Linked DNA regions of Homo sapiens: all the other regions are linked to region 1. Evidence: fine-mapped expression QTL. A gene starts in region 1. Each other region holds a variant in brackets. All regions are shown on one strand. Distances are from middle to middle.

What was found. PIP is the estimated chance that this variant, and not a neighbour inherited with it, causes the effect. A credible set is the group of variants that fine-mapping cannot tell apart.
Region 2: its variant is the best candidate, but not a certain one, in a credible set for the expression of LYPLAL1 in whole blood (TOPMed, PIP 0.79).
Region 3: its variant is the best candidate, but not a certain one, in a credible set for the expression of LYPLAL1 in monocytes after LPS (Kim-Hellmuth 2017, PIP 0.67).

The regions. Positions count from the first base shown.
Region 1 is chr1:219,167,325-219,178,463 of GRCh38, forward strand. LYPLAL1 (lysophospholipase like 1) reads left to right here and starts at 6,554. Exons shown (of 5, transcript NM_138794.5): 1 at 6,554-6,657. The coding sequence starts at 6,567. It overlaps LYPLAL1-DT (LYPLAL1 divergent transcript), which reads right to left and starts at 6,464. Exons shown (of 5, transcript NR_038845.1): 1 at 6,146-6,464. RefSeq lists enhancers at 6,385-6,434, 6,515-6,844, 10,239-10,528.
Region 2 is chr1:219,128,590-219,139,728 of GRCh38, forward strand. All of the region lies in intron 3 of LYPLAL1-DT (LYPLAL1 divergent transcript), which reads right to left. Among named protein-coding and RNA genes, the nearest start is that of LYPLAL1-DT, 40 kb to the right of the region's middle. The variant C/G (reference allele first, on the strand shown) is at 6,405.
Region 3 is chr1:219,095,800-219,106,938 of GRCh38, forward strand. All of the region lies in intron 3 of LYPLAL1-DT (LYPLAL1 divergent transcript), which reads right to left. Among named protein-coding and RNA genes, the nearest start is that of LYPLAL1-DT, 72 kb to the right of the region's middle. The variant TA/T (reference allele first, on the strand shown) is at 6,853.

The DNA.
Region 1 (11,139 bases):
GCTTTGCTTGGTTCTCACTACAAGATTTGACATTGGGCTTTGTAATTTTCAAAAATTTTGCTTCCCACACTAAGCTGAAAACCAGGCCTAATATTGTGATCCTGACCCTGGCCTTGGCTGGTTTTCTCCAAGAGGTGGCCTGTCACCTGTGTACCTCTGGTTACTGCTTACATGCCAGAGTAACAAGTAGATGCCAGAGGAGTGTAGCGCTTTCCTCTCTGTTCATCCTTCCTGTTCAAAATATAACTCAATTAAAAGCATAATTTAACTCCAACAAGTAATATCTGAGACACTGTTCTAGGTATTTCAGGAGGATACAAAGAAATAAAACAGTTCTTGCTATTAAGGCAACTACAATTTAGTAGTTCACAGGACTAGCCATGCAGGAAAAGTACTTAAACCTAGGTTTTCGTACCTCAAATCCATCGCACCTTCTACCACAGCTCAATGACAATTTTGTTTATAATTATTTTGAAATTGTGTATGTGTTTTCAGGTTTGCAAGAGTGTCTAATAAAGATATTTGTTTTCACTTATATTATTTTATTTTGTTAACCCCTGTGAAGGAAAACTAAATAAATGCATATGAATGAAAATATATAATGAATGACAAACTAACATTTTGAATAATCACTGCTTTAAACTTCTCTTGTCACTTGCATCCTTTTTCTATTGTGATAAAAAGCACATAATGTAAAATGATCTTAACCATTTTTAAGTGTACAGTTCAGTAGTGTTAAGTATATTCACATTGTTATGAAACAAATCTCCTGAACTTTGTCATCTTGCAAATCTGAAAATTTATATCCATTAAACTACTAATCCCCTTTTCCTCCTCTCTCCGGCTCCTGGTAACCACCATTATACTTTTTTTTCTATGAATTTGACTACTTCAGATATTTCATATAAGGGAAAGCATACAGTATTCATCTTTTTGTGACTGCTTTATTCAACTTAACATAATGTCCTCAAGATTCATCCATGTTGTAGCATGTGACAGGATGTTTTTCCTTTTTAAGGCTGAATAATATTCCATTACATGTATATATAATATTTTATTTATCCATTTATCTGTTGATGGACATTTGGGTTGCGTCCATCTCTTGGTTGTTGTGAATAGCACAGCTATGAGCATGAGTGTACAAGTACATCTTTGAGCCCCTGCTTTCAATACTTTTCGGTATATACACCTGCATCCATTTTTAACCTACACAAAGAATATCTGCTCTTGAAGACTGACACTTTGCCATCAATCTATAAGAAAGTAAATTCTTTGGAAATATGATAAGACAAAATAATTGTATTAATTTGCCTTTCAAATATAAACTAAGGTAGATTTTTCAAAGCGTCTCGATTTTCTTCATATATAGTTATAATAAAAGAAAATCCATTGTCATACCTTGATGCCAATTATACATATATAGAAAATATTCATAAATATATATACACAGAGAAATATGCACATACACAGACACAACCTGAAAATAGTCTACTTCAGAATAAAGTGCACTTCCATTTTTCAAATTGCAAAAATTGACTTTATATTTTCTAATTATCTTTTTTTAAAGGTCTTTTTAAATTTTTTTTCCTGGCTTTTAAAAGTAATCACAGAAAGAGTAGGAAGAGATTAAGGCTGCTAAACTCAGCCATACAAGGAGGAAGGAGAATCACATGTGCTGATCTTTCTCATACTACTAACTAAAAGTTTATGTAGTGCAATTAAGAGTTTTGAACCATTATTTTATAAGTAGAGTTAAACATCAGAGGTATATTCATAAATGAGTGGCACATGTCACATATTTAAATTCTTTCAGGATCTCAGAATGACAGAACCTGGGGCTTCTCCATCAAGTCCTGCTCCCTTATTTCACAATTGGAGAAACGTGTCCAATGAGACTAAATGGCCTGTCTAATTTACATAGCTTGTCATCCCCGAGGCTGGAACAGGAACTCCTATCATTTCATTACTTCAACATTTTTTATATCTACCTATCTAATCTTCTCTTAAATGAATGTAGCAAAATACAGTAGATATTCTGACTGCATTCATAAGGAAATTACTCTTTTGGCTTTTATTTCTTTTCTTTGTAATAGACGTATGCAATGCAATGACTTCCCCTCATCTCATGGTAGGATTTGAACTTCCCTGCCCTCAAGGGCCCAAAACCTGATTAGGGGTTGCTGTTGATTCTTGCCCTGGATTTCAAAAGCCTGAAAATTTGTTATAGAAGAAAAAAGTAATAGGTTCTAGAGTACAGAGACAAATATGAAGATTGCAGGAGGGATTCCTCAGACTCATATAAGCACTGAGTGGAAGTTGAATAAGAAGTGTTTCCAGAGGGTAACTTAGGAATTTGAGAACTGGCCATAAGAGGTGTCCAAATGGAAGAAGACCCATTTCCCAGAAAAGAGGAGACAAATGGCAATGCAAAGAACATTGTTCTGGTGTCCAAGCATAAACACTGACCCTGTAGCCTGCACCCAAGGGAGGAAAGTTCACTGTCCTCCTCTAGGGCCTACATACTGCTTTGGTGTGTATCATGTTGACTGTTAATAATCCAGCAGAGTAATCACTATCCATTCTCCAAGGCTGCGTTTGGTCTGTGTTTGAGGAGCTCATGTATTCCCCTACCCCTACTGCCAATGCCATCTCAGTCCATCTCACAATGCCCCACGTGACCCATCTGCTCTAAAAAGAGAATGAGACCATGCACATCTAGTAGTAAGGTAAAGTAGAGGAATGACCCATATCTGTATCTGGAAAGACTGGACTGAAAAAGATTAAGGTCCCCAGAACTGAGGCAATGATTATGTTAAAGTTTATAATCTCATTTATAAAAAGTATAGTTTTGCTGTTTTGTAAGAATTCAGGACCTTTAAGTTTGTTTCTAGTTTTTCTTTCATGAATGGACAGGGGGAATGCATAAAAGAAATCATTTTATTTATCTATGACAAAATGTTAAATTACCTAAAGCTGAAGCTGAAGCATTTTGTGCAATGTGTATATATTGTTTATATATATATGTGTGTGTGTGTGTGTGTGTGTGTGTGTGTGTGTGTTTCTCTCTCTCTGAATGATGCAACAGATGAAAACTAACCAATAGAGAGGATATGGTTTGATGCTTAAGAATGAGCCAAACAACAAACGGGAAACTGTGTACTGTCTGCGTGACAAATGCAACTTCATTTAACTGTTATCATTTGAAAATACCAAGTATACTAATCTTGTTCATTGTTTTTGTTTCTTTTTTGAGACAGAGTCTTGCTCTGTCACCCAGGCTGGAGTTCAGTGGTGAGATCTTGGCTCACTGCAACCTCTGCCTCGGGGTTCAATCAATTATTGTGTCTCAGCCACCGGAGTAGCTGGGATTACAGGCATGCGCCATGATGCTCGGCTAAGTTTTTTTGTATTTTTAGTACAGATGGGGTTTCGCCATGTTGGCCAGGCTGGTCTTAAACTCCTGGCCTGAAGTGAACCGCCTGCCTTGGCCTCCCAAAGTGCTGGGATTACAGTAAGCCACTGCACCCAGGCAAAATATACTAATCTTAATGGCTGAACTTTCAATTGCTTTTCTGTTTTGAAAACTAAGTGTGGCCTAAAGCATTTCTCAACACACTGAAGAACAGTAAACTAAACTCCGACTTTGCCATTTATATCGTTAGATCCTAATTGATATTGAAACCCTGCAAAACAGGAGAACTTTTTCTTTTTCTTTTATTTTGTTTACTTGCTTTTTTAAGTTTAGAACTGAAGTTACCAAAAGGAGGTGCATATAGATTGGCAGAAAGCAAATGAGTAGCAACAAAAAATAATTAGGAGCTATATAAAGAGTAAAAGAATGTATGAATAGGAATCTTCCAGTGATAATATTCCCCCACCTTCAATAGGGCAAAAGATCCACCACAAAAGCAAATAGTCATCTTGAAACTTAATTACATTTCAAAGTAGTACAGTAACATGAAAGGAACAAAACATTTTTGTTCAACAGTTTGCCTACCAGATGGGATCTCTAAATATAGGTAATCTAAAACCTTTGCTTGTCCTATAAACAAATACAGATGAAAGGAATAGCAACAATAGCTAAGCATTTAAATCACTGGAAATAAAATAGCACTTTGGTTAAGTGTGGAAGAATCTGGCTCATTCTAATAATGAATCTGGGAAGGCTGGAGTTCTCAGTGAAATTCAGAATACAGAAGGTTGCTTCTGGTATTTACCACCTGCTTATCTACCTGTTTAAACTGGTAGAATAGTTGGAAGAACAAATCAGGAACTAATAGCAGTAGACTTGGGAAAAACTAAAGAAGCACAGGAACACCTAATAAATAGAGACTCTAAAGGGCCACAATACAAATTCCAGACTTTTGTTTTTGAAATAAGAGTTGCGACATGCCCTTGCTTCATTTCTGTGCACTCATGTGTAAATGTGGGTAATAGTTAAGAACCTATGCTCTGGAGTCAAGCCCAGCATGTGAATCCAGGTTCTACAATTGACTGGCACTATGACTTTGAGCCAGGTTCCTTACCTCTTTGAGCCTCATTGACAAAAGCAGATAGTAATAGTACTGAGTTTTATTGGAATTAATTTATGACAGTTTTTGGCACCTACTGAATCCCATGAATATTAGTTGCTTATTATTATTAATAATCATTACTCTTAAATAATTATATTCTGATTTTTTGCTGTCTCAAAAGCGTGGGGTGGTGTACAGTAAGATTTTCAGGTAGTAAATGGAGTTCTAAGAGTAGAACTTAAAGCCTTCCCTGTATATCTCCAAGTGGTCTTTCCTAGTAGCACTGCCCTCTTCTCACCTGGCTAGGGAAGGTTATCTAGAACTCATACGGGGAAGGCAGGTCAAAAGACAGAGGTTTTTCTTTTAAGAATTGGCTATCAGAGCTCAGCCTACCCTAGTTTGTCCTCCTCAGGGACTTCACTTATACAACTCTCTGCTGCAGATCTATGGGCTTTGGAGAAATGACTCAGAATTTCTTTTTGATTTGGTTAACTAATGGCATGTAGGACCATTCTTGTTGATGGTATTGTTATTAATATAACACCATGATAGCTTAGAGCTGATTTTGGCAACTAATGTTGATAGTAAACAGTTTACTTACCTGTAAGTAGGGTGATTACCTGGAACAAATAAAAGGTAAGTTGTAATTGCTAAAATGTAATGCAGACTACAATGAATGGAAGGCCAGTGTTTAATGGTACTTAAGCTTTTACTGGGTTATTTTGTTGAATTTTACATGAGGCAAGAGCAACCTGCTGGGGCCACTGCCTTCAGTATTAAAAGATACCTATGTTTTGGACTTTATACAGGAAATAATTCCATTTCTTAGTATTTTTAAAATTATGGTAAAATACACATAAAATTTACTAGGTGTATAGTTCACTGGCAGTTATTAACACTGTTGTACAACCATCATCACTGTCCATTTTTAAAAATGTTTCACTATCTAAGCAGAAACTCTTGTACTCATTAAACAACAACCTCCCAACTCCCTCTTCCCTTAGTCCCTGGTAACCTCTAATTTCACTTTCTGTCCCTATGCATTTGCCAATTCTAGATATCTCATGTAAGTGGAATCATACAATTATTTGTCCTTTTGTGTCTGGCTTCACTCGGCATAATGTTTTCAAGGTTCATCCATGTTGTAGCATGTATCCGAATCACATTCTTTTTACAGGCTGAATAATATTCCATTCCAATATGTACATAGCACATTTGGTTTATCTCTCCATCTGTAGATGAACATTTGAGTTGTTTCCACTTTTTGGTACTTGTGAATAATGCTGCTACAGAACACTGAAGTACAAGTATTTGTTTGAGTCCCTGCTTTCATCTCTTTTGGGTATATACCTAGAAGTGGAACTGCTAGTACCTATGCTAAGTCAATGTTTAACTTGTTGAGGAGCCACCAAATTATTTCTATTGCCGCAACATCATTTTACATTCTGATCAGCTATGCACAAGGTTTCTAATTTCTACACATCTTTACTAATACTTATTTTCTGTTTTTTTGATAAGAGCCATTCTAATGGGTATATAAAGCAGAATCTCATTAAATTAGATTTGCTTTGTAAACTATTTATTAAAAATAAGAGACACGAAGAGAACTTATTATTATATGCTTCGCTTACCCTGTATATCAAGAGCTGCAAACATCCTGTGCGAGTCCCAAAGTGAAAGGTAAAATATGGTTCTATTAAATTTTAAACATAGTAACACGAATATTTCTCCAAATAAGGTAATCTTGAGTTTTGGGATTGCATTTAAAATTCCTACAGCAAATGCTCAGGATATAAACATATCCATTAGTCATTACAGAAGTCCACACGAGGCTGACACACGTAGAATACCATTATTAGCAAAACTAAACTCAGTACAGTTACAACTGCCTCAAACTTGACCCCAAAGTATTGAAAGCTCCTCAGAGAGCGGGCCAGCAGCGCTGCGCATGCGCGCTCCCGGGCGTGCTCCCGCGCGTGCCTGCGTATTTGCGTGCGCGGCCCCGCGCGGCAACGCAGGGGCGGAACCGCATGACTGGCAGTGGCATCAGCGATGGCGGCTGCGTCGGGGTCGGTTCTGCAGCGCTGTATCGTGTCGCCGGCAGGGAGGCATAGCGCCTCTCTGATCTTCCTGCATGGCTCAGGTGGATTTCAATTTTACGTCCTGGTTTTCTACAGCTCGGGAAACATCCTCCCCTCGGTTACCCCAGTATTGCCCAAGTGGAGGTGTCGCCGGGCCCAAATAGGGCCCAGTGGGTGGCTCCCCCGTCGCCAGCCCCGGCTGTAGATGCACGGGCAGCGCCACCTGCCCCCAGCCTCCCCCGTTAGTCTTCCTCTTTCTATCGGGCGGTCACTGGTCCACCACCCTCGCTTTGGGGCCTTGTGTCCCGCCGCTCAGCCAGCCCTCCATCCCCACAACACACCTCCCCATTCCTCGCCCCAAGTTTAAACAGAGCAAGTTAGTAAGGTAAGTCTTCTGCTAGAGGGAAATTATTTAGTGTTTTTCATTATCAGCTACTAGTGATTTTTCAGTCGTAATTGCCCATTGCTTTTTCCAGGCTCCCATACTAATGTAGACAATTGAGATTCACAGTTAACTTAGATACTGTTTACAGATTATCTCTTTTCTGTAAGCCACTGTGCCATGGCTGGAGTGCTTTCTCTCACTTTCCTTTTTGCTGCTTCTCTTTCCTTCCTTTCCCTTTCCCGCCTGTGTCATTAAACTTCCAAGATAGACTACAGGGGCAGGACCCCCAGGGACAGGCATCTTCCACTACCTGCCCTTAGTAACGTGTGCTTAATGCTGTATCGTTACTTAACACTCATCTGTAATCACTTTTGTCTGTCTTCCCCACTGGATTGTGAACTTCCCACTGGATTATGAGAGTAAGGGCCCTTGTGTCAACCTTTGCACCCCCAGTGCTTGGCCCAGGGTAAGCTCTCAGGAAATGTTTTTTAAAGAAATGAGATGCAGCCGGTGTCCTCAGGGGGCCTACCTAAAGTTAAAAACAAAAACAATCCAATTAGTTTGAGTCAGCAGTGCATGGAAGATCACAAGACGGTGCATGGTTTCCTGCCAAGTGAATTGTAAGAGAAAAAAATGTGGTTAGGCATTATTAAGGCATTTGGAAGATGAAAAGCTTGTCAGACTTTTCGAAGAAAGTGGTCTTTGAGCCGAGACGGGTAGGCTTAAATGGGACGGTGATTGGAAGGGAATTGGAAAGGTACTGGGCAGAGACCTGGAAAAGGGCAATTGTGGGAGGTATTCTCTTTATTTTGAAAATGAGGCCAGACAGGTTCAGCAGCTTGGCCAAGGTCTCTTAGCTGTTACTGTGAGTAGTGGCGGATTTGGGATTAGAACCCAAAGCTCTCCGACCTCAAACTCAGGGCTTTGGTGGGGTAAGGTGAAAAAGTTTGAACTAGGATATATTGTTTTGGAGATAGGGAAGAAGAGGTCCAATAGTGTTTAAAGGGAAAGACGGCATATATTTAGAAGGTGACGTGTGTAAGATGACAGCGGTACTTAATAACTAGGAGACTGGTAGTACTATTTAGGGCTCCAAGAGTGTTCATTTATAAGTACCCAGAAATTCCCCAACACTGTACCCTTTCTCATAATCAATTCTCATTATCTTTAGGAAGAACTCCTAGACTATGTTCTTTTTTCCCCTGGACCTCTTTGCTTAAAATAATTATCCTTTTTTTGAATTTCAGATTACATTTTTATAACCTGTAAGGGTATGTCTCTAAAATTCAGAGTCATGTATGTATGTATTTTTTCCTTTGTACTTTGAACCAAGAATTTATTCAAAGAATTCTGCCAAGTATGCGAGTATAATGTGATTCCTATATATTTAAATCTCCACTGAAGTAAATAAAACCTTATTGGGAGTAGGTCTTTATCATCTTTATCGTTGGGAGTAGGTCTTTATCATCCAGTAGGTCTTTAGCAGCTAGTGATTTTACATTCAACTTTAATGTATGTGGTTATGTTATAGGAGATGTTTGGTTTCTGCTTAACTAGAATATGGGCAAACCAATTCTGTTTTATCACACTCAGTTTTGCCATACTGTTAACCAGTTTTAACACTTTTACTATGGAATAAAGTACTAGCTTTTTAAAAAGTGGACATTGGGAATGGATAGATGTTGTTTTGCAGCTGCATTCTTACTCTTCGAGGCTGAAAAAATGTTGTTAAAGACAGATTTTGTGTTTTCAAATAAAAAACCTTAAAAGCTTGAGATTTTCTTCTAGGAGATAGCAGCCATAGAAGAACATATGGGAGTGTAAATTATATGTAGCCAACTTAATTTGAGCCTTTTCTATTAATAAAGTACTAAAGACGGACCTTCTTTTAAGATGATAAAAATAAATGATAGGTTAATGAGTTTTGTTCAGTCTCTCAGATCAGATTAATTCACTCTTATTTGCTCCCATAGGACACTGGTTCTTCTTTCAGTGGTAGTCATCATACTTGTAATTATGTAATGTAATGTCTGTATTCCACACTAAGCTAGTAGGTCCACAAAGCCCAAACCATGTGTCTTGTTTATGGCTTTCTTCTTGTGTGGTAAGGCTCAGCAAGTTGACTGAGTAGCTTCTTGGTAAAGTCACCAGTAAGCTCAGGCTCTATGTCGCTCAATGTAATGGACATTTTCAGTCGTCCTCTTACGTGAACTGTCATCTGCATTCAGCTTTCTTCTCAAAAAACTCTCCTGGTTCTTTTTCTGTCTTGATTTGCTCCTTCTGGTTTCTTTTGCAGACTCATCCTCCTCTACCTGGCCATTAATGATGGGGTTTCTCTAAATTTGGTCCAAGGTCTTTTCACTCTACATTTTTCTCCCTAGGCTAATCACAGAAGTCTCCTAGAGATACCCATTTGTGTCACTGGTGTATAGGTAAAAATAGAACCTTTGAATTTCTGTGGAGATTCATAGATTCTATTTTTGAGCTCTAGACAAGTTCATCTAACTGCCTGATAGACATTCATTCATGAATCCATTCATTCAAGAAATATATCACAGCCTCCATGTGTAAGGCACTGTTCTGTGCTCTGATCATACAGCAATGAAAAAAACAAATCACTGCTCTCATGGAGCTTATGTTCTAATGAAGTAAATAAATACTATAGTAGAAGGTAGTAAGTTTTATGGAAACAAGGAAAGCAGGATAAGGGGATTCTTCCATGGATGAGAAGTTGGAACAGTGTTACAATTTTAAATAAAGTAGTCAGGTTATGCCTCACTGCAAAGATGACAGAAGATGAAACTTCACAGCTAGACTTAGACTTGGCTTTAAAGCCAAGTCGGAGGCTCCAGGGTAGGGTCCTTGACATGTTCAAGGAACAGCAGTAAGGCTAGTGTGTCTGGAGTGAGAAGAATAGGAAGGGATATCCAAGAGGGTACTGGCATCCAGGTAGTGTAGGGCAGGGGTTGGCAAACTTTCTGCAAAAAGTCAGGTAAGCATTTTAGCTTTTGTGGGCCATGTAAGGTCTCTTCCCCATAGTTTTCCCTTCTCTCTCTTTTTGAGAAAGGAGTCTTTAATAATGTAAAACTCATTCTTAGCTTATCCTCCTTAAGGACCCTAGGCTGGATTTTGTCCTCCCCTCTAGCTGTCCATAGTTGCTCAATCAACCCATGGTATAAGACCTTGTATGCATTACAAAGAGGCACCTCACACTCAACCTGTGTATGCCTGTTGCTTATGTTTCCTGTCTAGGCAGGTGTCTAGTATTGTTCACCCAGTTACTCCGGCCAAAAGCCTGTTAGTCATCCATGAGACCTTTTACTGTTGACCCTTTATAACAAATCCGTTGCCAATCTCTATTAATTTTACCACCTAAATTTCTCTAGTATCTGTTTCTATCTACATCATCGCTGTAGTCTAAGCATGAACAGTAGTTTCCTAACTGATCTCTGTACATCTACTTTTGCTCTCTTTCAATTCTGTCTTGACACAGCTTCCAGATTGATCCTTTAGAATCATGCCAACCTTTCTGTCAGAAATATTCATGACTTCTTCATGAACAGATTTGTCACGTTCCTACAGTTTCTCTGGTCTCATTTTATAGACACTGCTCTTTTCATTCTCTGCTTTTCAGTTCTTACATGTCATACTGCTCCCTCTTATCCAGAATCCTGGCACCTGCCCTTTCCTCGCCCTGGGATACTTTTTTCTTCTGCCCTGCACTTCTCACCATCCTGTAGACTTTAGTTCAAACCATTCAGCAACTATATTTGGATACCCAGTTTTTGTCAGTCCTGTTCTAGGCACTATGTGAACAAATAACTCAGATAAAATACATCATAAACTTCCTCTTGCAGAGTTTATAGGCTAGTGCATTTATTGTTGAACTCCATAAACCCAGTCAGTTGTGAATAAAATAAATATTTGCAACACCAAGTGTCTCATTTTTGAAGCAGGTACATTTGCCTTTCACATTTATTTGTGTGATTTTTTGACTAATTTCTGTTTTTCACAATATGCTACACACTCCATGAGAATAGGGACTCTATTCCTCCCTCACCCCACCATCATTGCCTCTCTAGCAGTGAACACAGTGCTTGACACATTAACAGGGATTCAATAGGCAGTTTTTGAACTGATACCTTAATGAGTTAATTGA
Region 2 (11,139 bases), 39 kb before region 1:
CAAGATGGTGTGTAACGGCATCACACTATTCAGAACAACACACAATTTAAATTAAATTTATGAATTGTTTATTTCTGGAATTTTTTATTTAATATTTTTAGATTACAATTGACCTTGGGTAACTGAAGCCACGGAAAGCAAAACGGTGGATAAGGGGCAACTACTGTATAAAACACTTCTGAAAAACCAAAAGTAGACATGAACAAATGGAAGTACACCTCAACATCATCAATTGTATCAGCTGTCCCAAAGTTATTTATAAATTAAATATATTCCTAATAAAATACCAAGGAGCTTTTTCCCTGAGCTAGGCAAGGTGATAACAAAATTCATATAAAAAAATAAATAAACAGCCAGGCACAGTGGCTCATACCTGTAATCCCCACACTTTGGGAGGCCAAGGGGGAAGGATTTCTTGAAGCCAGGAGTTTGAGACCAACCTGGGCGACATATTGAGACCCTGTTTCTGTAAAAAAAATTAAAAAGTAGCCATGTGCAGTGGCTCATGCCTGTAATTCCAGCACTTTAGGACACTGAAGTGGGATAATCACTTGAGCCCAGGAAGTCAAGACTGCAATGAATGAGTAATGATCATGTCACTGCACTCCAGCCTTGGCAACAAAGCGAGACCCTGTCTCAAAAAATAAAAATTAAATAGACCAAAAGGGAAAGCCAGAAAAAATATTTTTTAAAGAGATATAAGAAAGTACTAACCATACCAGATATTAGAACATACTAAAAAACCTCTTTAACAGCATTATCCAGTGGACCTTTTGTGATGATGGAACTTTTTGTATCTGCACTGTCCAATAAAATAGCCACATGTGGCTAAATGAACACTTAAAATATACCTAGTGCAACTAAACAACTGAAGTTTTAATTTTATTTCATTATAATAAATTTAAATTTCAGTAACCACATGTGGCTAAGACCTACTATATTAAATAAGCATAACTTTGCAATTAAGTATGGAATTGATGCAAGAATAAGCAGACCAGTTAAGTAGAATATTAGGTCTAAAACTAGATTCTCTCTCACACACACACACCTATAAAAAATTCATTCACACTATAAACAAAATCTTCCCATGTGCCAGATATGCTGGAAGTAATTAGGACAGAAAAGTGGATAAGAACTAATAAATTCACAATCCATGATGAACAATGATGGAAAATAACGGAGGGTGTTATAAGTGCTCACGAGAAGTCACTGATTCCTCCCTGCTGCTCTATATACTTTACCCAGACTCACCAATTTCAACATATACACACACACACACACACGTACATATACATATGTACACATACACATACATATGTACATGTATATGTGTGTGTGTGTATATATATACATGCTATGTAAAAGATGTTATCAATGGGACAAAGAAGACCTCCTTAATAAATGGTGCTGGAACAACTAGGTAATCATTTAGTAAAAGATAAAACTAGATGTATTCCTTGCACCATTACCAAGAATAAACTACAAATGTTACCAGCAATCTAAATGTAATAAATGAAATCATGCAAGTACTAAAAGGAAACACGAGTGAATTCTTCCTTATTAACCTTGATATAGAGCCAAACTTTATAACTATGCTCCCCAAATCTAGATGCAATAAAAGGAAAGATTGATAAATTTAACTATATAAAAAAAAATTAAAAAGCTTTTGAATGGCAAAACAAATTGAACAAACAAAAAATTACCATAAGTAAACTCAAAGATAAATGGAAAACAGAAAAAAATTACTGCAACAAATATGAAAGAAAAATGCTAATATTCCTAATATGTAAAAAGCTTTGAAAATTGAGAAAAAAGATTTTAAAATCCTGTTGAAAATGAGCAAAAGCATAAAGATATAGTTAACCAAGTGGTCCCTACATGTAAAGCTTATTCTACTCACAGAAGTAGAAATGTACACTAAAGCTCGCTGAGATAACTTTTCTTATCCATCATATTGGCAAAACCTCAAAAGCATATAAATACACTACTGGCAAGATTCTTTCATATGTTGCTGAAAGGAAGGCAAAATGGCCTAACTCTTATGGAAGGGCAGATTTGGCAATATTTAACAAAACTGTGTATGTATTTATCTTTTCATGCAGCCATTCCACTTCCTGGGATTTACCCTGAACAATATGAAAATACATGCAAGGGGTTATTCATTACCTCATTATTTGTAATTGCAAAATATTGGAAACTACCTAAATATCCAGGCATAGGAGATTGGTTAAATATACTATGTTACATGCACACAATACAATAGTATAGTATTATGTAGCTATAAAAGAAAATGAAGAAGAATTCACTGAAGCAGTAGGGAGTTACTTCCATAATATATCAAAGGAAAATAGCAAAGCATAAAAGTATATATTGTATCAATTGTACATTTTCTGAATTTGACCATTTGAGTGTGGTTATGTGAGAAATGTTCTTTGAAAATAATACACAGATTATTAAAGAGTAAAGGGAAATAATATATGCAATCTATTCACAAGTAGTTCAGGAAATGTAGGGAGAAAAAGCAAGCAAGAAAAACAAATGTAACAAAATGTTGAAATTGGTGAATTTGGGTAAAGTATATAAAGAGCAGCAGACAGGAATCAGTGACTTCTCTTGAGTACTTATACAACACTCTGTTATTTTCCATCATTTTTCACCATGAATTGTGAGTTTATTAATCTTTTTTTTTTTTTTGAGATAAGGTCTTGCTCTATCACCCAGGCTGGAGTGCAGTGGAGCATTCTCAGCTCACTGCAACCTCCTCCTCTGGGTTCAAGTGATTCTCGTGCCTCAGCCTCCCGAGTAGCTGTGATTACAGGTGCACACCACCACACCTGGCTAATTTTTGTATTCTTAGCAGAGACGGAGTTTCACATGTGGGCCAGGCTGGTCTCTAACTCCTGGCCTCAAGTGATCTACCTGCCTTGGCCTCTCAAACTGTTGGGAAACAGGCGTGGGCCACTGTGCCTAGCTGAGTTTATTAATTCTTATTCACTTTTGTCCTCATTACTTCCAGCAGGATCTGGCACATGGGTAGATTTCAAGTATAGTGTGAATGAATTAATTAATGAATTTTTTAAAGAACGAGAAAAGTGATTGTATGAATTGGTTTCTCCAGGAAATGTATCTTAGAGGAGGTAAATCTTAAATGCGTTTTTAAAATTTCTAAAACTGTGTCAGGGTGGAACAGAGGGTGAATATGAGCAGAGGGAACAACTTAAATAAGGCACAGAAACAGCTGTGAGTGCAATAGGGCTGGAGACAGTCAGGATCATTATGACAGAAACAGAGGCTTTAGAATGAAATTACTGGGAAATAAGTTTGGATAGCTGATGAAGAGAATCAGACTGTAGAGACACTTCAAATCGAGGCAGGAAGTTTGGGGAGGCACTAGAAACTCCCACTGGGCTCTTAGGAAACAAACATCCAGATAGCCACCATACATGGTTCCTCCTGATGACCTATTTGCACAGAAAAAAACAGGCCAATGATGAGGATTTTCGTCATTTCCCTGTCTTGTGTTGGTCACTGATTTTTGTCAGTGAGGCAGGCTTCCCAATGCCCAGTTATTCCTTTTGAATTTTGAGATAGGAATCTAGACAGATGGCACCTTAGTTTGACCTTGCCGTTATATAACCACAAGAAAAAGTTACTGTAGTTTTTTTTTTTTTTTTTTAAAATCTGTTACACTAACTGCATTATTTCATGCTCTGGAAGTTTTACTTTGGTGAAAAAATATGAAAAAAAAAGATTACCTTAAATAAGTTTTAACTTTAAGGTACAGAAAATGAAGAATGTCAGCTCCCATGATTAACTATCCTAGGCATGGCTTATGCTCTATGAGGTGCCAAAACTTGATGTGAATAACATTAAATGCTTCAAGATGTGCAAGCACATATATTCTCAAATGGGCAGAAGTGATTATTGTGAACATAGGCAAACTTTAGTTGAAGGATATGCATAATTGCTTTATTACACAGGGTGTACCAGGTCTACATGTATTTATTCATTAATTTTGTATTTTTTTCTGAAATGATCAGCATTAATTCCTAGTAACTGCATTTCTATAAGACATTCATAATATAAGAATATAACTATAATATACAGACAATAATCAGATTGAATTTAACACTAAATGACATAGAGCAGAATGAAGAATTTTTTAGAACTTAGCAAAATGCTACCCTTTCTTCTGGCTGGCCCAGGCAGGGAAGAAAGAAGGTGACTGGAATTCAGAAAATAAAATGACAATTTCTTTTTTCATTAGATGCCTATTTGTTAGCAAAAGAAGTACTTATTTTAAGCATTATTCAAAAAACACATCCTCAAAATATTAATAAACATCTCTTTAAAAATTCCTATATATACAGTTGTCTTCATGCCAATGCATTTGCAAATTAGTTTAATTATATAGGCACTCATTAACACATATTTATTATAAATCAAGAAGCTGCCAAATACTGCTTTGTGACCTGGGGATATAAACAGGGAGAAAAAAAGGCAAAGACAAAAATCTCTGTCCTCAGGGCTTATATTCTCGTAGGGAGAGATAGACATTGAACATCATAACTAAGTCTAAAATACAGTGTGCTGAAGGTGACAAAGAGTATCAAAAAAAGTTAAGCAGGTGAGGATAGGAAGTGTTGAGTGGGTAGTGTAACCACCAAATGTGTAAGTCTTGCCTGCTGCCCAGATATAGCCTATTTATCAAGATAGGAATTGCACAGAGAAAGAGTTTAATACACATACAGTCTGCTAAACAGGAGACTGGAGTTTTATTATGACTCAAATCAGCTGACCCAACAATCGAGTGGTTAGGGTTTTTCAAGAACAATTTGGCGGGTAAGAGGATAGGGAATGGGTGCTGCTGGTTGGTTGGAGATGCAATCATAGGGGTGTGGAAAAGAGTCATTGTGCACTGAGTCCCCTTGTGGGTGGGGGCCACAGAGGAGTCACTAGTCTGGATGGAACCATCTGGTTGTCAAAAAGGCAGAAGCCTGAAAAAACATCTTAAAAGGCCAATTTTAGGTTCTACAATAGTGATGTTATTTATAGGAGTAATTGAAGAAGTTGCGAATCTTGTGACCTCTGGAATAACAGCTGGTAATTATTTAACTACATCTACATCTTAGCAGAATTCAGGCCCCTCTCATCCTCCTAACCTGGTGGCCTTTCATTAGTTTTACAAAGGCAGTTTAGTTTGAGGAGGGGCTATTATTATTTAAACTATAAATTTCTCCCAAAGTTACTTGGGCCCATGCCTAGGAATGACAAAGGGCAGTTTGAAGATTAAAAGTAAGATGGAGTTGGTTAGGTTAGATCACTTTCACCATCGTAATTTCCTCACTGTTGTAATTTTTGCAAAACTGATTTCAGTAGCAATTTTAATTAAGGTTTTTGGGAAAGTCTAACTAAAAAGATATTTGAGGAAAGAGCTGAAAGATGTGAAAGAGTGAGCCATGTGGAAGAGTGGACAGGAATACAGCAAGCTCCAAGTAGCTCCTGGTGTGTCAAAGGAGCACCTAGGAGGGTAGTGTGGCTGGAACACTTACTAGGGACTTAGAAACAGGAGGCATGTCTCAGAAGGCCACAAAACGACATGGTGGATCCTCATGTCATTATCCCCTAGACCCAGGACTTACTTACCACAGAAAATCTGTCTAAGGACAGGCAGCATTTATGGTAAGTATACGTTTATGATAATATCAAAGTTGTTTTGACCTAAGGACAGGATTTGCAGTAAGCATGTGAAAGTAGAAATCTAAGAGGCATTCTCAGAATTGCAGTTCATCAGAAGTCAACATGGCAGATTAGCATCCAGGATGGAGGTACTTCAACCTCCACAAACTCCATGTAAGATGAACTCAAAGTGACCCACACCAGGACATATAATGAAGCTTTAGAAAGACAAATGCAAAGAGAGAATTTTGAAAGCACCAAAAGAAAAGCAATTCATCACATAGAAGGGAACCTCAATAACATTATTGGGTTTCTCATAAGAAAATTTGGAGGCCAGGAGCCATCAGGCTGATATATTCAAAGTAGTAAAAGAAAAAAAAAATCTGTCAACCAAGAATCCTGTATTTTGCAACACTATCCTTCAAAAATAAAGGACTAGTTTTAAAATATCCAGATAAACACAGACCTGCCCTGCAAATGTTTAAGGGAAATGTTCAAGGGAGTCCTACAGGGTGAAATAAAAAGACACTAGACAGGATCAGGCACAGTGGCTCACACCTGTCATCCCAACACTTTGGGAAGCCAAGGCAGGCAGATTATGAGGTCAAGAGATCGAGACCATCCTGGCCAACATGGTGAAACCCCATCTCTACTAAAAATACAAAAATTATCTGGGCATGGTGCCATGCACCTATAGTCCCAGCTACTCGGGAGAATTACTTGAA[C/G]CCAGGAGGCGGAGGTTGCAGTGAGCCGAGATCGCACCACTGTACTCCACCCTGGTGACAAAGCAAGACTCCATCTCAAAAAAATAAAAAAATTAAAAAAAAAGACACTAGACAGTAATGCAAAGCCATATGAAGAAATAAAGATCTCAATAAAGGTAAATATACAGGCAATAATAAAAGCTGGTATAATATTATTGTAATGATGGTTTGCAACTCTACTTTTATTTAAGAGACATTTTAAAAAGTATTTCTCTATAACCCAATATTTTGTAACTTTGATGTGTAACCCCACATTTTGTTTTCTACATAATTTAAGAGACTAATGTATTTAGAAAAATTCCTATTTCATATTTTTCAGCACACAATTTATAATGATGTAATTTCATGACATCAACAATTGAATGGGGTAAGAATTGAGCTATTAAAGAAGTAGAGTTTTTGTATATTATTGAAGTCAACTGGTATAAATTCAAATCAGAGTGTTACATCATTAGGATGTTAAATATAACATCCCTGGCAATTACAAAGAAAATAGCTATAGAATATATACAAAAGGAAACGAGAAAGAAGTTTAAACAAAAAGTCAACTAAATACAGAAGAAGGCAGCAATGCATGAAATGGGTGACACAAAAGCTACAAAAGTTACATAGAAAACAAATAGCAAAATTCAGAAGTAAATTCTTTCTCATCAATAATTACTTTAAATATAAATTGATTAGATTTTTCAATCAAAGGGAGATTGGCAAAATGGATTAAAAAAGAGCATGCACAATCTAACTATATGCTGTCTACAAGAGACTCACTTTAGATCCAAAGACACACAAAAATTGAAATTGAAAGGATGGAAAAAGACATTTCATGCAAATAGTACATAGAGCAAGTATGGCTACTCTAATACCAGACAAAATAGATTTTAAGTCAAAAAGATCACAAGAGACAAAAAGGTTATAATACAATGATAAAGGAGTCAAATTATCAAGACGATATAACAGTTTATATAATAACATAAACATTTATGCACTTAATGACAGGCCATCAAAATATATTAAGGAAAATGTGAAATAATTGAAGGGAAAAATAGACAGTTCTTCAATAATAATTGAACACTTCAATACGTCACTTTCAATAATGAATAGAACAACCAGACAAAAGTAAGAAAACAGAGAACTTAACACAATACACCAACACATCTAACAGCCATATATATATTTTTCTCAAGTGCACTTGGGATATTTTCCAGGATATACCATATATTAGTCCACAAATTAAGTCTCAGTAAATTTTAAAAGATAGATATCATACAAAGTATCTTCTGTGACAACACTGGGATAAAGTTAGAAATGAGTAACAGAGTAAAACTGGAAAATTCATAACTTTGTGGAAATAAAACAACATGCTCTTAAACAACAATCGGATCAAAAAATGAAGAAAATATTTGGAGATGAATGAAAATGAAAATATACCAAAAATTATGGGATGCAGCAAAAACAGTGCTAAAGAGGAAACATATAGCTATAACTGGTTACATTAAAAAACAAGAAAGGTCTCAAATCATCAATCTAACTTTACAATTGAAGGAACTAGAAAAAAAAACAAACTAAACACAAAACTACCAGATGGAAGGCAAAAAATAAAAATTAGAGCAGAGATAAAGGAAATAGAGAATAGAAACACAATAGAGAAAATTATAAGCCCCCCAATATTAGTTTCTTTGGAAAGATTAACAAAAATGACAAAACTTTAGTTGGCTGAACTAAGAAAAAGAGAAGCTACTCAAATGAAAATGAAAACATGACTACCAATTCTACACAAACAAGAAGGTTACAAGAGAGTATACCATGGACAATAGTATGCCAACAAATTGGATCAGTAGATGAAATTGACAAATTCCTAAAAACATAAAATCTACCAAGACTAAATTATTAAGAAATTTAAAATCCGTTTGGACCTATAACTAGTAGGGAAACTGAATTAGTAATCAAATATCTCCCAACAAAGCGAAGCTCTGAACCTAATGGATTCACTGGTGAACTCTAACAAACATTTACAGAAGAATTAATACCAATTGTTCTTACCTTTTTCCAAAAAAGAAAAAGAAAAAGAAAAAAAGAGGAGGAGAGAAAACATCTTAATTTATTTTCTGAGGCCAGCTTTACCAGCTTTACTCTGATACTAAAGCCAGATAAAGATACTACAAGGAAAGAAAATTACAAGCCAATATTTCTTGTGAACATTGATACTAGCACACTTAATTCAGTGACATATTAGAAGAATTATATACAATAACCAAGTGAGGTTTAATCTGGGAATGCAAGAATGATTCAAATACAAAATCAATCAATGTAATATACCACATTAACAGAATGAACAAAAAGCACATCGTTATCCCAATTGATGCAGAATACCTTTTTACAATAAAAATACTCAACAAACTAGGAATAGAAAGAAACGACCTGACCATAATAAAAGTCATACATAAAAAGCAAACAGCAAACATTGTATTCAATGATGAAAGACTTACAGCTGTTCTTCTAAGATCAGAAAAAAAGACAAGGATGCCCGCTCTCACTACTTCTATTCAACATAGTACTAAAAGATTTAACTAGAGCAATTAGTGAAGACAAGAGAACAAAAGACATCCAACTTGGAAAGAAAGAAGTAAAATTATTATCTCTGTTTGCATATTATATGATCTTATATGTAGAAAATCCTAAAGATTCCATAAGAAATCTATTAGAGCTAGTAAATGAATTCAGCAAAGTAGCAGGATACAATATCAACACACAAAAATTGGTTGCATTTCTATACACCAATAATGAACAATCTGAAAGGAAATAACATTTAAAATTCCATTATAATAGCACTGAAAAGTCAATTTCTAAGTACTTTAGAAACTAAAGATGAAAGACTTGTACAATAAAAACTACACAACATTGCTGAAAGAAATTAAAGATGTAAGTAAATAAAAACACATTCCATATTCATGGATCAAAAGACTTAGTATTATTAAAATGCCAATACTACCCAAAGTGATTTATTGATTCAATGTAATCCCTGTCAACATTCCAATAATATTTTTTGCATAAATAGAAAAATCCATTTTGAAACTTATATGAAATCTCAAGAGATCCTAAATAGACAAAACAATCTTGAAAAAGAAAAACAGAGTTAAAGGATTCACACTTTTTGATTTCAACACTTACTACAAAGCTACAGTAATCAAAACAGTGTGGTACTGGCATAAGGACAGACATGTAATTGAATGGAATAAAGAGCACAGAAATAAACCTTCACATATATGGCCAAATGATTTTTGACAAGGGTGGCAAGAACTTTTAATGGGAAAAGGACAGTCTCTTCAACAAATAGTTATGAGAAAACTGGGTAAACACATGCCAAAGAAGGAAGCTGGGCCCTTATCTAATACCACATACAAAAATTAACCCAAAATGGATCAAAATTCTAAGTGTAAGACTCAAAACTATAAAACTTTTAGAGGAAAACCTAGGGCAAAATCTTTACAACAATGAATTAGGCAATGACTTCTTGGATATGACACCAAAGTTACAGTCAACAAAAGAAAAAATGGACAAATTGGATTTCATGAAAATTTTTAAAATTTGTGCAACAAAAGACAATATCAACAAAGTAAAAAGGCAACCCACAGAATGGAAGAAAATATTTATGATCAAATATCTTATAAAAAATTAATGTTTGGAATGTATAGAGAATTCCTAAAACTCAACAGCAAAAAAAAACAACGACAACAACAAAAAAAAACTTGATTGAAAAATGAGTAAAGGACTTGAATAGACATTTCTTCAAAAAGATGTACAAATGGCCAATAAGCATATGAAAAAATCCTCAACATCAGTAATCATTAAGGAAATGCAAATCAAAACCACAACAAGATTACACTTTACACCCATTAGGTTGGTATGATGGTTAACTGTATGTGTCAACTTGACTGGACTATGAGATGCTCAAGTAGCTGGTAAAACATTACTTCTGGATACGTCATTAAGGATGTTTTTGGAAGTAATTATTAATAGTATTTGACTGAGTAAAGAAGATCCATCGTTATCATTGTAAGCAGGCATCATCCAATCAATTGAGGGCCCAAATAGAACAAAAAGGTAGTCAAATGGGTAAATTTTCTCTCTCTCCTTGAGTTGGCACATCCTTCTTTTCCTGCTCTCACACACAGAAACTCCTGATTCTGGGAACTTCAGACTCTGAAGCTTATACCTTTGGATTCAGACTAAATTACACCACTTGCTTTCCTGGTCCTCCAGCTTTCAGATGGCATATTGTGGCACTTCTCAGCCTCCATAATCACATGAGCCAATTTCTATGACAAATCTCCAAATTTCTGTCTCTCTCTCTCTCTCATTGGTTGTTTCTCTGGAAAATCCTTACTAATACAGACAGCTACTATTTACAAAAACAGAGAATAACAAGTGTGGAAAACAGTATGGCATTTCCTAAAACAATTTAAAATAGAATTATTGTATGCTCTAGCAATTCCACTTCTAGGTATATATCCAAAAAACTGAAAGCAGGGTCTTGAAGTGGTATTTATGTATCCATGTTCATATGAGCATTATCGACAATAGCTAAAACGTGTAAGCAACGCAAGTGTTTATCATGAATGAAAGGATAAGCAAAATGTGGTAATACGAATACAATGAAATACTATTCAGCCTATAAAAAGAAAGGAAATTCTGACATATG
Region 3 (11,139 bases), 72 kb before region 1:
CAAAAATGAGACATCTTTCAGTATGGAGAAGCATTAGAAGAGTTCCCTTTAGAATTAATACAAGTATATTTCATATTACAATTTTTACTCAACATTCTCCTTTAAGTTTAGTTAGCATGTAATTCAAGAAAATGCAAATAAATGGATAAGAATTAGAAAGGAAAAAATTCAAAATTATCATAATTTTCAAGTGATATCGGTTGCTTTCAAAATCTCAGATTATCCAATGATATGGTTTGGCGATGTCCCCACCCAAATTTCTTCTTGAATTGCAGCTCCCATAATCCCCACATGTCATGGGAGAGACCTGGTGGGAGGTAATTGAATAAAGGGGGCTGGTTTCCCCATGCTGTTGTTGTGATAGTGAAACAGTCTCATGAGATCTCATGGTTTTATAAAGGGCAGTTCCCCTGCACACACTCTCTTGCCTGCCATCATGTAAGATGTGGTTGCTTCTCCTTTGCCTTCTGCCATGATTGTGAGGTCTTCCAAGCCATGTGGAACTGTAAGTCCATTAAATTTCTTTTTCTTTATAAATTACCCAGTCTCAGATATATCTTCATAGCAGTATGAAAATGGACTAATACAGCAAATTGGTACTGGTAGAATGGGGTACTGCTATTAAGATACCAGAAAATGTGGAAGCAACCTTGGAACAGGCAGAGGTTGGAACAGTTTGGAAGGCTTAGAAGAAGACAGGGAGATGTGGGAAAGTTTGAAGCTTCCTAGAGACTTGTTGAATGGTTTTGACCAAAATGCTGATAGTGATATGGCCGATGAATTCCAGGCTGAGGTAGTCTCAGATGGACATAAGGAACTTACTGGGAACTGGGACAAATGTGATTCTTCTCATGCTTTAGCAAAGAAACTGGTGGCATTTTTCTCCCTGTCTTAGAGATCTGTAGAATTTTGAACTTGAGAGGGATGATTTAGGGTATCTGGTGGAAGAAATTTCTAAGCAGCAAAGCATGCAAGAGGTGACTTTGGTGCTCTTAAAAGCAACTATTAATTGCCAAGGCACTGGGGAAAATGCCTCTAAGGCATGTCAGAGGTCTTCACAGCATCTCCTCCCATCACAGGTCTGTAGGCCTAGGAGGAAAATATGGTTTCATGGGCCAGGCCCAGGGCCTTGCTGGTTTGTATAGTCTCAAGACTTGGTGCCCTGTGTCCCACCCATGCCTTAAGGGGACCAATGTACAGCTCAGGCTGTTGCTTCAGAGGGTGCAGACCCCAAGCCTTGGTGGCTTACACGTCATGTTGGCCCTGTGGGTACACAGAAATCAAGAACTTAGGTTTGGGAACCTCCTCCAAGATTTCAGAGGATGTATAGAAATGGCCGGATGTCCAGGCAGAGGTGTGTTGCACAGGAGGAACCCTCAGGGAGAAGCTCTGCTAGGACAGTGCAGAAGGGAAATGTGGGATGGGAGTCCCCACACCGAGTCCCCACTGGTGCACTGCCTAGTGAAGCTGTGAGAAGAGGGTCACCATTCTCCAGACCTCACAATGGTAGATTCACCAACAGCTTGCACCATGCATGCACCTGGAAAAGCTGCAGACACTCAATGCCAGCTCGTGAAACCATCCAGGAGTGGGGTTATAACCTGCAAAGCCACAAGGGTGGAGCTTCCCAAGGCTGTGGGACCCCACCTCTTACATCAGTGTGACCTGGATGTGAGACATGGAGTCAAAGGAGATCATTTTGGAGCTTTAAGATTTTACTGCCCAGATGGATTTTGGACTTGCATGGAGCCTGTTGCCCCTTTGGTTTGGCTAATTTCTTCCATTTGTAACAGGTCTATTTACCCAATACCTGTACCCTCATTGTATCCAGGAAGTAACTAACTTGTTTTGATTTTATAGGCTTTGGACTTGGACTTTGGAGTTAATGCTCAAATGAGTTAAGACTCTGGGGGACTGTTGGAAGGGCATAATTGTATTTTGAATTGTGAGGACATGAGATTTGGGAGGGGCAAGGGGTGTAATGATATAGTTTGCCTGTGTCTCCAACCAAATCTCATCTTGAATTGTAGCTTTCATAATCCCCAGGTGTCATAGGAGAGACCCAGTGGGAGGTAATTGAATCATGGGGTTGGGTTATCCTCTGCCATTCTATGTTAGTAAATAAGTCTCATGAGATCTATTGGTTTTATAAAAAGAAGTTCCTCTGCATATACTCTCTTGCCTGCTGCCTTGTAAGACTTGCCTTTCTCCTCCTTTGCCTTCCTCCATGACTGTGAGGCCTCCTTAGCCATGTGGAACTCTGAGTCCATTAAACCTCTTTTTCTTTATAAATTACCCAGTCTCAGGTGTTTCTTCATAGCAGTATGAAAATGGACTAATACATCCAAAGACAAATAATCAGAAATCATAAGGGTGTTTAGCAAGAGAGCTAGCTATAAGATCAATAGGCAAAAATCAATATATGTCCTCAGTAGGAAATATAATTTTAAAAGGTGACATTTTCATAGCAGCAATGAAAACTATATAAAACCTGAGAATAAATCTAATGAAATGTAGACAGTACCTATATGCAGAAAATTATAAAAATCTGCTAAAGAAATGTAAGAAAAAAAAAAGAACTTGGAGACAGACATGAGTTTTGGGATAAGAAGACTTAAAACTGTAAGGACATTAATGCTTGCCAAATCTAGAGTGGAGTCAAGTGGAACTTGACAAGCTAATAATAAAGTTTATGTGAAAGAGCAAAGGATCAAGAATAACCAAGACATTCTGAAACAAAAGAAGAAAATAAGTAAATTACCCTGCAGATATTTAGATATATTATTTTAAAACTACAAAGTAGGACACTGAGCAAGTCAGAGAAAGAAAACTTCACCAATGAAATGAAATTAAATATAAGATAGACCCAATATTTATGAAACATTCATATATGACAAATACGTATTGCAGGTCAGTAGAGAAAGGGACTCATCAGTAAATGGTAGTATGATTGTCATTATCCAGAAAGGAAAATATTTTTTAAAAATCTAGGTAGGTAAGAAATTCAATGTGAAAAACAGCATTAAGTTGAAAATATAGGAGAATATCTTTCTGACCTTTGGTTAAGGAAGGCTTTTTACATAAAATACAAAAATCACTAATCAAAAGAATATGATAAACTTAACTACATTAAAATTAAGAACATATGTTCAGCAAAAGATATGTCAGTGAAAGAAAGATTGTAAAAAACCAGCCATAAACCAAGGGAAAATATTTGTAACATACATTATTAACAAAGAGTTCAAATTAAGTATTTGTAAAGAATTCCCACAAATTAATAATAAAAACAAACAAATTAATAGATAAACTGACACAAATATATATTTCATGGATAAGGAATTGCTAGATATACAAGATGCTTCCTCTCATTTGCAATCAGAGAAATGAATATTAAGAATGAGAAACTTTATATCTGAGAGATAGGCAAAAATTAAGAAGTCTGACTACATCTAGTGTTGGAGTGAGTAATTTATATACATTGCTTTTGAAAGCATAAATGTGTACAACTGCATTGGTAAACTGTGTATCATTATTTTCCAAAGTTGAGCATTGTATATACCATAACTCAGAAATTCCACTCCTAGGTATATATCCTAGAAAAACTATTCAAATGACTGCAAGATATGTAAAATGTGTATACCAGTACTCTTTATATTATCAGAAAACTGAAAGTCACCCAGAGTCTAACAGGAAATAGATGAAAAATTGTGGTGCTGTCACATATTTGAATATTGTATGACAGTGAAAATGAAAAAAATTTCTACTGTGTGCAGTAACATATATAAACCGCAGAAGCCTATGTTCAATAAAAATCATCAAGACTCAGAAGACTACATACAATATAATGCTGAAAACAACCCAATAGTCCCATAGATAGTTGTTTGGGTAAACATAGAAATTGACTCTTATGGTCTTAAAGCTTGAACCTTACATCTGTTCGATCTGAGTTCCTTCCTCAGTAAATGACCTTCAAGCCTCTCAAAGTACCAAAGAACTGAAGCTCACCAGAGCACCACATCCAGACAATGAGATGCCAGATCCTTCATTCATTATGATTGCTTGCTTGCCCCTCCCTAGTTCTTGTTTCTTGCATATTGTTGCATTTGTTCCCTACTATATAAACCCATAGTTTTAGTCAGTCAGGCAGATGGATTTGAGACTGAGCTCCCATCTCGTCAGCGGCAGCATCCAATTAAAGCGTTCTTCCTTGTCAATAATTGGCATCTCAGTGAATGGCTTTCTGTGTGGCAAGCGACAGGACCTAAACCGAACCTCTGCTTTTTCAGTAACAATATTATGTGTGTAGAAATGTAAAACAAGCTCAACTAAATATACAGCTACTTTAGGCATACATGCATTTGTGATAACAATACTATTTAAAGAGGATGAAGAGGCTGGGCATGGTGGCCCATGTTTATAATCCCAGCACTTTGGGAGGCCAAGGCAGGAGGATTGCTTGAGGCCAAGAGTGGAGCCCAGCCTGGGCAACAGTGTGAGATCCTGTTTCTACATTTTGTTTTTTAATTAGCTGGTTGTGGTGGTGTGTGCCTATAGTCCCAGCTACTCCAGAGGCTGAGGCTGGAGGATCACTTGAGTCCAGGAGTTGGGGGTTAAAGTGAGCTATGGTCATGTTTCTGCAGTTTGGCTTGGGTGACAGAGCAAGACCCTGTCTGTAAAAAAAAAAAATAAGTCAAAAGGAAGAAGAAACAAAAAATTCACAGGGAATGTGGGGAAAGTGCAGAGACTGTGAAAGAGATCCACAATGTGTAGATACAATTTTAAAGCCCTCCTTGGTATTTTTCTAAATTAAGAAGTATTATCCAGTAAAAAATGCTTTTTAATCAAGCAATATTCTTTTATAATATATTCTTCTCGTGCACTCCAATGTCCTCTTCTCTCTCCTCTTCTGGCTACAGTTGCACCAGGAAGCTGAGGCAGAGACAAGGTGAACATAACTGTAAATGGTAAAAAAAAGAATAAAAAAAGAAATAAATACTTCAAAGAGAGTTAGCAAATAAACCATCCCACATTTGGTTGACTTTTGGTGAATTATCCTAGAACTAGGGAAGATCAAAAGCAGAGATTACAGTCTGGAGGCTATTGCAACGTTCCAGGTAAGAGATGATGGTGGCCTGGAGTAGAATAAAATGGTAAATGTGGAGGAAAATGAAAAGATTCAAGAGGCATTTTGTAATTGTTGTCATGTCTGTCCTTAGAGTCACAGCAGTTGCAGTAATAATGCTAGAAACATTTTAAGCATAGTGATCATCCAATCCAACTGACAGTGTCTCCGGTTGCCAACAAAGAGGTGAACGGGCACTAGCATCACTCCATCCCAGGGTAATTACATCATTTGGTCATCAGCTACTGTATTCATCTCCTCAAAGGTGTTGTGATCTCAAAGCTTATTCTATATGTTTTCTTTATTTCATTTAACTGACTTTGCTGACCCTTGATCCAGTTCTTATTTCTCCACTGAATTCTGAAACTCTTGAATCTTCTCCTTTGCAGTCAGCCAACTCTCTTAATCCTCTACTATTGTTCAGAATGTTCCCTTTATTTTAACAGCTTTATTAAGGTGTAATTGTTATGCACAAAAAGCTGCACATAATTAATATATAAAATTTGATAGGTTTTAACATGGGGTGTTTTTCCATTTATTTGGTTTTCTTTAATTTCTTTCAGCATTTTTTTGTAGTTTTCAATGTACAGGTCTTTCACTTCTTCATTTAAGTTTATGCCTAAGTATTTTATTATTCTTGATGCTATCATAAATAGAATTATAAACCAAAAGTAAAAATTTAAGCCCCCCAACTGACTGAATGGACCCTTTCTCTTGGCCAAGAAGATTCCAAAAAAAATCTGAAAAACTAGTTCAGGCCATGATGGGAAGGGGGTTCAGTTATGCCTCATTATACTCTCCTTCCTTTGGAATTCAGGCACAAATGACCAGCATTAACATTAAAACAGAGATCTTTACACTGACAACCTGATTATTTGTAGCAATATGATACCAAATTCAATCCGATCCTAGCAGAGCATCACATGACAAATAGCAGGCCCTAAAGGAAATTGAGTATTTAATCTCAAAATATACTTATTTGACATATGTTGAAGTGGCCTGGCAAAGCTCTCTCGTGGGGGAAATTTACATTTTGTAGAGAACTGCAGGTCTCTTTCTGAGCCGGAGGAGATTAGTTGAGAATCTACCACCCTTAAAAGGACTGAATTAGAAAATATTTGCCATCTATTGCCTCTAAGGGTGGCTGCCTTTGAGACTTCATCTACATAATAAGAACCTTCATCTCCACAACCACTCATCTTAACCCAGACACTCCTTTCTATTGATTCCAGGTCTTTAAATAATGACTCTTTCAACCAATTGCCAATCAGAAAATCTTTGAATCCGCCTATGACCTGGAAGTCCCTGTTTTGAGTTCTTCCACCTTTCTGAACCAAAAAAAATGTATATCCTACAGGTATTGATTGATGTCTTATGTCTCCATGAAACATATACAATTAACCTGTAACCCAACCACCTTGGGCACATGTTTTCAGGACCTCTTGAGACTATGTCTTGGGCCTTGTTCACTGATATTTGGCTCAGAATAAATCTCTTTAGATATTTTACACAGTTTGGCTTTTTCATCAATATAATCATTTTCTTCATTTCCTTTTCAGAGAGTTTAATGTTGTTATATAGAAATGCAAATAATTTTTGTATGTTGTTTTTATTTCCTGTAACTCTTATACATTTAACTTGAACACCATCCAAATTATTGGTGTATAACTGTTAATTGGAGTCTCTTGTGATCCTTTTTATTTTTATTTTTATTTATTTTATTTTATTTT[TA/T]TTTTTTTTAATTTTTTATTTTTTTATTTTTATTTTTTATTATTATTATACTTTAAGTTTTAGGGTACATGTGCACAATGTGCAGGTTAGTTACATATGTATACATGTGCCATGCTGGTGTGCTGCACCCATTAACTCGTCATTTAGCATTAGGTATATCTCCTAATGCTATCCCTACCCTCTCCCCCCACCCCACAACAGTCCCCAGAGTGTGATGTTCCCCTTCCTGTGTCCATGTGTTCTCATTTTTCAATTCCCATCTATGAGTGAGAATATGCGGTGTTTGGTTTTTTGTCCTTGCAATAGTTTACTGAGAATGATGATTTCTAATTTCATCCATGTCCCTACAAAGGACATGAACTCATCATTTTTTACGGCTGCATAGTATTCCATGGTGTATATGTGCCACATTTTCTTAATCCAGTCTATCATTGTTGGACATTTGGGTTGGTTCCAAGTCTTTGCTATTGTGAGTAGTGCCGCAATAAACATACGTGTGCATGTGTCTTTATAGCAGCATGATTTATAGTCCTTTGGGTATATACCCAGTAATGGGATGGCTGGGTCAAATGGTATTTCTAGTTCTAGATCCCTGAGGAATCGCCACACTGACTTCCACAATGGTTGAACTAGTTTACAGTCCCACCAACAGTGTAAAAGTGTTCCTATTTCTCCACATCCTCTCTAGCACCTGTTGTTTCCTGACTTTGTAATGATTGCCATTCTAACTGGTGTGAGATGGTATCTCATTGTGGTTTTGATTTGCATTTCTCTGATGGCCAGTGATGATGAGCATTTTTTCATGTGTCTTTTGGCTGCATAAATGTCTTATTTTGAGAAGTGTCTGTTCATGTCCTTCGCCCACTTTTTGATGGGGTTGTTTGTTTTTTTCTTGTAAATTTGTTTGAGTTCATTGTAGATTCTGGATATTAGCCCTTTGTCAGATGAGTAGGTTGCAAAAATTTTCTCCCATTTTGTAGGTTGCCTGTTCACTCTGATGGTAGTTTCTTTTGCTGTGCAGAAGCTCTTTAGTTTAATTAGATCACATTTGTCAATTTTGGCTTTTGTTGCCATTGCTTTTGGTGTTTTAAACATGAAGTCCTTGCCCATGCCTATGTCCTGAATGGTAATGACTAGGTTTTCTTCTAGGGTTTTTATGGTTTTAGGTCTAACGTTTAAGTCTTTAATCCATCTTGAATTAATTTTTGTGTAAGGTGTAAGGAAGGGATCCAGTTTCAGCTTTCTACATATGGCTAGCCAGTTTTCCCAGCACCATTTATTAAATAGGGAATCCTTTCCCCATTGCTTGTTTTTCTCAGGTTTGTCAAAGATCAGATAGTTGTAGATATGCGGCGTTATTTCTGAGGGCTCTGTTCTGTTCCATTGATCTATATCTCTGTTTTGGTACCAGTACCATGCTGTTTTGGTTACTGTAGCCTTGTAGTATAGTTTGAAGTCAGGTAGCGTGATGCCTCCAGCTTTGTTCTTTTGGCTTAGGATTGACTTGGTGATGCGGGCTCTTTTTTGGTTCCATATGAACTTTAAAGTAGTTTTTTCCAATTCTTTGAAGAAAGTCATTGGTAGCTTGATGGGGATGGCATTGAATCTATAAATTACCTTGGGCAGTATGGCCATTTTCGTGATGTTGATTCTTCCTACCCATGAGCATGGAATGTTCTTCCATTTGTTTGTATCCTCTTCTATTTCATTGAGCAGTGGTTTGTAGTTCTCCTTGAAGAGGTCCTTCATGTCCCTTGTAAGCTGGATTCCTAAGTATTTTATTCTCTTTGAAGCAATTGTGAATGGGAGTTCACTCATGATTTGGCTCTCTGTTTGTCTGTTATTGGTGTATAAGAATGCTTGTGATTTTTGTACATTGATTTTGTATCCTGAAACTTTGCTGAAGTTGCTTATCAGCTTAAGGAGATTTTGGGCTGAGACAATGGGGTTTTCTAGATATACAATCATGTCATCTGCAAACAGGGACAATTTGACTTCCTCTTTTCCTAATTGAATACCCTTTATTTCCTTCTCCTGCCTAATTGCCCTGGCCAGAACTTCCAACACTATGTTGAATAGGAGTGGTGAGAGAGGGCATCCCTGTCTTGTGCCAGTTTTGAAAGGGAATGCTTCCAGTTTTTGTCCATTCAGTATGATATTGGCTGTGGGTTTTTCATAGATAGCCCTTATTATTTCAAGATACGTCCCATCAATACCTAATTTATTGAGAGTTTTTAGCATGAAGTGTTGTTGAATTTTGTCAAAGGCCTTGTCTGCATCTATTGAGATAATCATGTGGTTTTTGTCTTTGGTTCTGTTTATATGCTGGATTACATTTATTGATTTGCATATATTGAACCAGCCTTGCATCCCAGGGATGAAGCCCACTTGATCATGGTGGATAAGCTTTTTGATGTGCTGCTGGATTCGGTTTGCCAGTATTTTATTAAGGATTTTTGCAACAATGTTCATCAAGGATATTGGTCTAAAATTCTCTTTTTTGGTTGTGTCTCTGCCCGGCTTTGGTATCAGGATGATGCTGGCCTCATAAAATGAGTTAGGGAGGATTCCCTCTTTTTCTATTGATTGGAATAGTTTCAGAAGGAATGGTACCAGTTCCTCCTTGTACCTCTCATAGAATTCGGCTGTGAATCCATCTGGTCCTGGACTCTTTTTCGTTGGTAAGCTATTGATTATTGCCACAATTTCAGATCCTGTTATTGGTCTATTCAGAGATTCAACTTCTTCCTCATTTAGTCTTGGGAGAGTGTATGTGTCGAGGAATTTATCCATTTCTTCTAGATTTTCTAGTTTATTTGCGTAGAGGTGTTTGTAGTATTCTCTGATGGTAGTTTGTATTTCTGTGGGATCGGTGGTGATATCCCCTTTATCATTTTTTATTGCGTCTATTTGATTCTTCTCTCTTTTTTTCTTTATTAGTCTTGCTAGCGGTCTATCAATTTTGTTGATCCTTTCAAAAAACCAGCTCCTGGATTCATTAATTTTTTGAAGGGTTTTTTTTGTCTCTATTTCCTTCGGTTCTGCCCTGATTTTAGTTATTTCTTGCCTTCTGCTAGCTTTTGAATGTGTTTGCTCTTGCTTTTCTAGTTCTTTTAATTGTGATGTTAGGGTGTCAATTTTGGATCTTTCCACTTAAAGTATATTTTGTTTTATATAAGTATAAGACATAGGTCCTGAAAACATGTGCCCAACGTGATTGGGTTACAGCTTAATTTTATGTGTTTCATGGAGACATAAGACATCAATCAATACATGTAGGGTATACATTGGTTTGGTTCAGAAAGGTGGAACAACTCAAAACAGGGACTTCCAGGTCATAGGTGGATTCAGAGGTTTTCTGATTGGCAATTGGTTGATGGAGTCATTATTTAAAGACCTGAAAACAATAGAAAGGAGTGTCTGAGTTAAGATGAATGGTTGTGCAGATGAAGGTTCTTATTATGTAGATGAAGTCTCAAAGGCAGCCACCCTTAGAGGCAATAGATAATCTCTTTTGTTAATCATTTATATGGAATATCTTTTTTCAACCTTCCCCTTTTAAGCCTATGTGTGTCGTTAAATCTAAAGTGTGTCTATTATAGACTGCATATAGTTGGGTCTTTTTTTTTTTTAATCCATTTGGCTTCAGTTACTATATCTTTCAACTACACAGCTGAATCTATTTACATTTAAAGTAATTATTAATACAGAAGGATTCACTATTGCCATTTTGTTAAATTTTTAAGTGTCCTGTAGTTCTTTCATTTTTCTTTTCTTCTCTTGCTGTCTTCTTTTGTGTTCCATTGGTGATTTTTTAGTGATAGCCTTTGATTCCTTTCCCTATTTTCCTCCCTCCCTTCGTTCCTTCCTTTCCTTCCTTTCTTTCTTTCCTTTTTTTTTTTTTTTTTCTTTTTTTTAGATAGAGTCACACTCTGTTGCCCAGGCTGGAGTGCAGTGACACCATCTCAGTCTCAGCTCACTGCAACCTCCGCCTCCCAGGTTCAAGTGATTCTCCTGCCCCAGCCTCCTGAGTAGCTAGGATTACAGGCTCATGTCACCCTACCTGGTTAATTATTTTGTTTATTTTCTATAGATATTTTCTTTGTGGTTACCATGAAGCTTACATAAAACATCTTATAGGTATAACAGTCTAAGCTCATCAGAAACATAACTATTAGGTTTGTGCAAATGTAATTGCAGTTTTTGCATTGTTGAAATTTGCCATTTGATATTGGAATACATTTTTAAGTAAATATGGTTATGTTATCCGTTGTTTTAATGTGCAT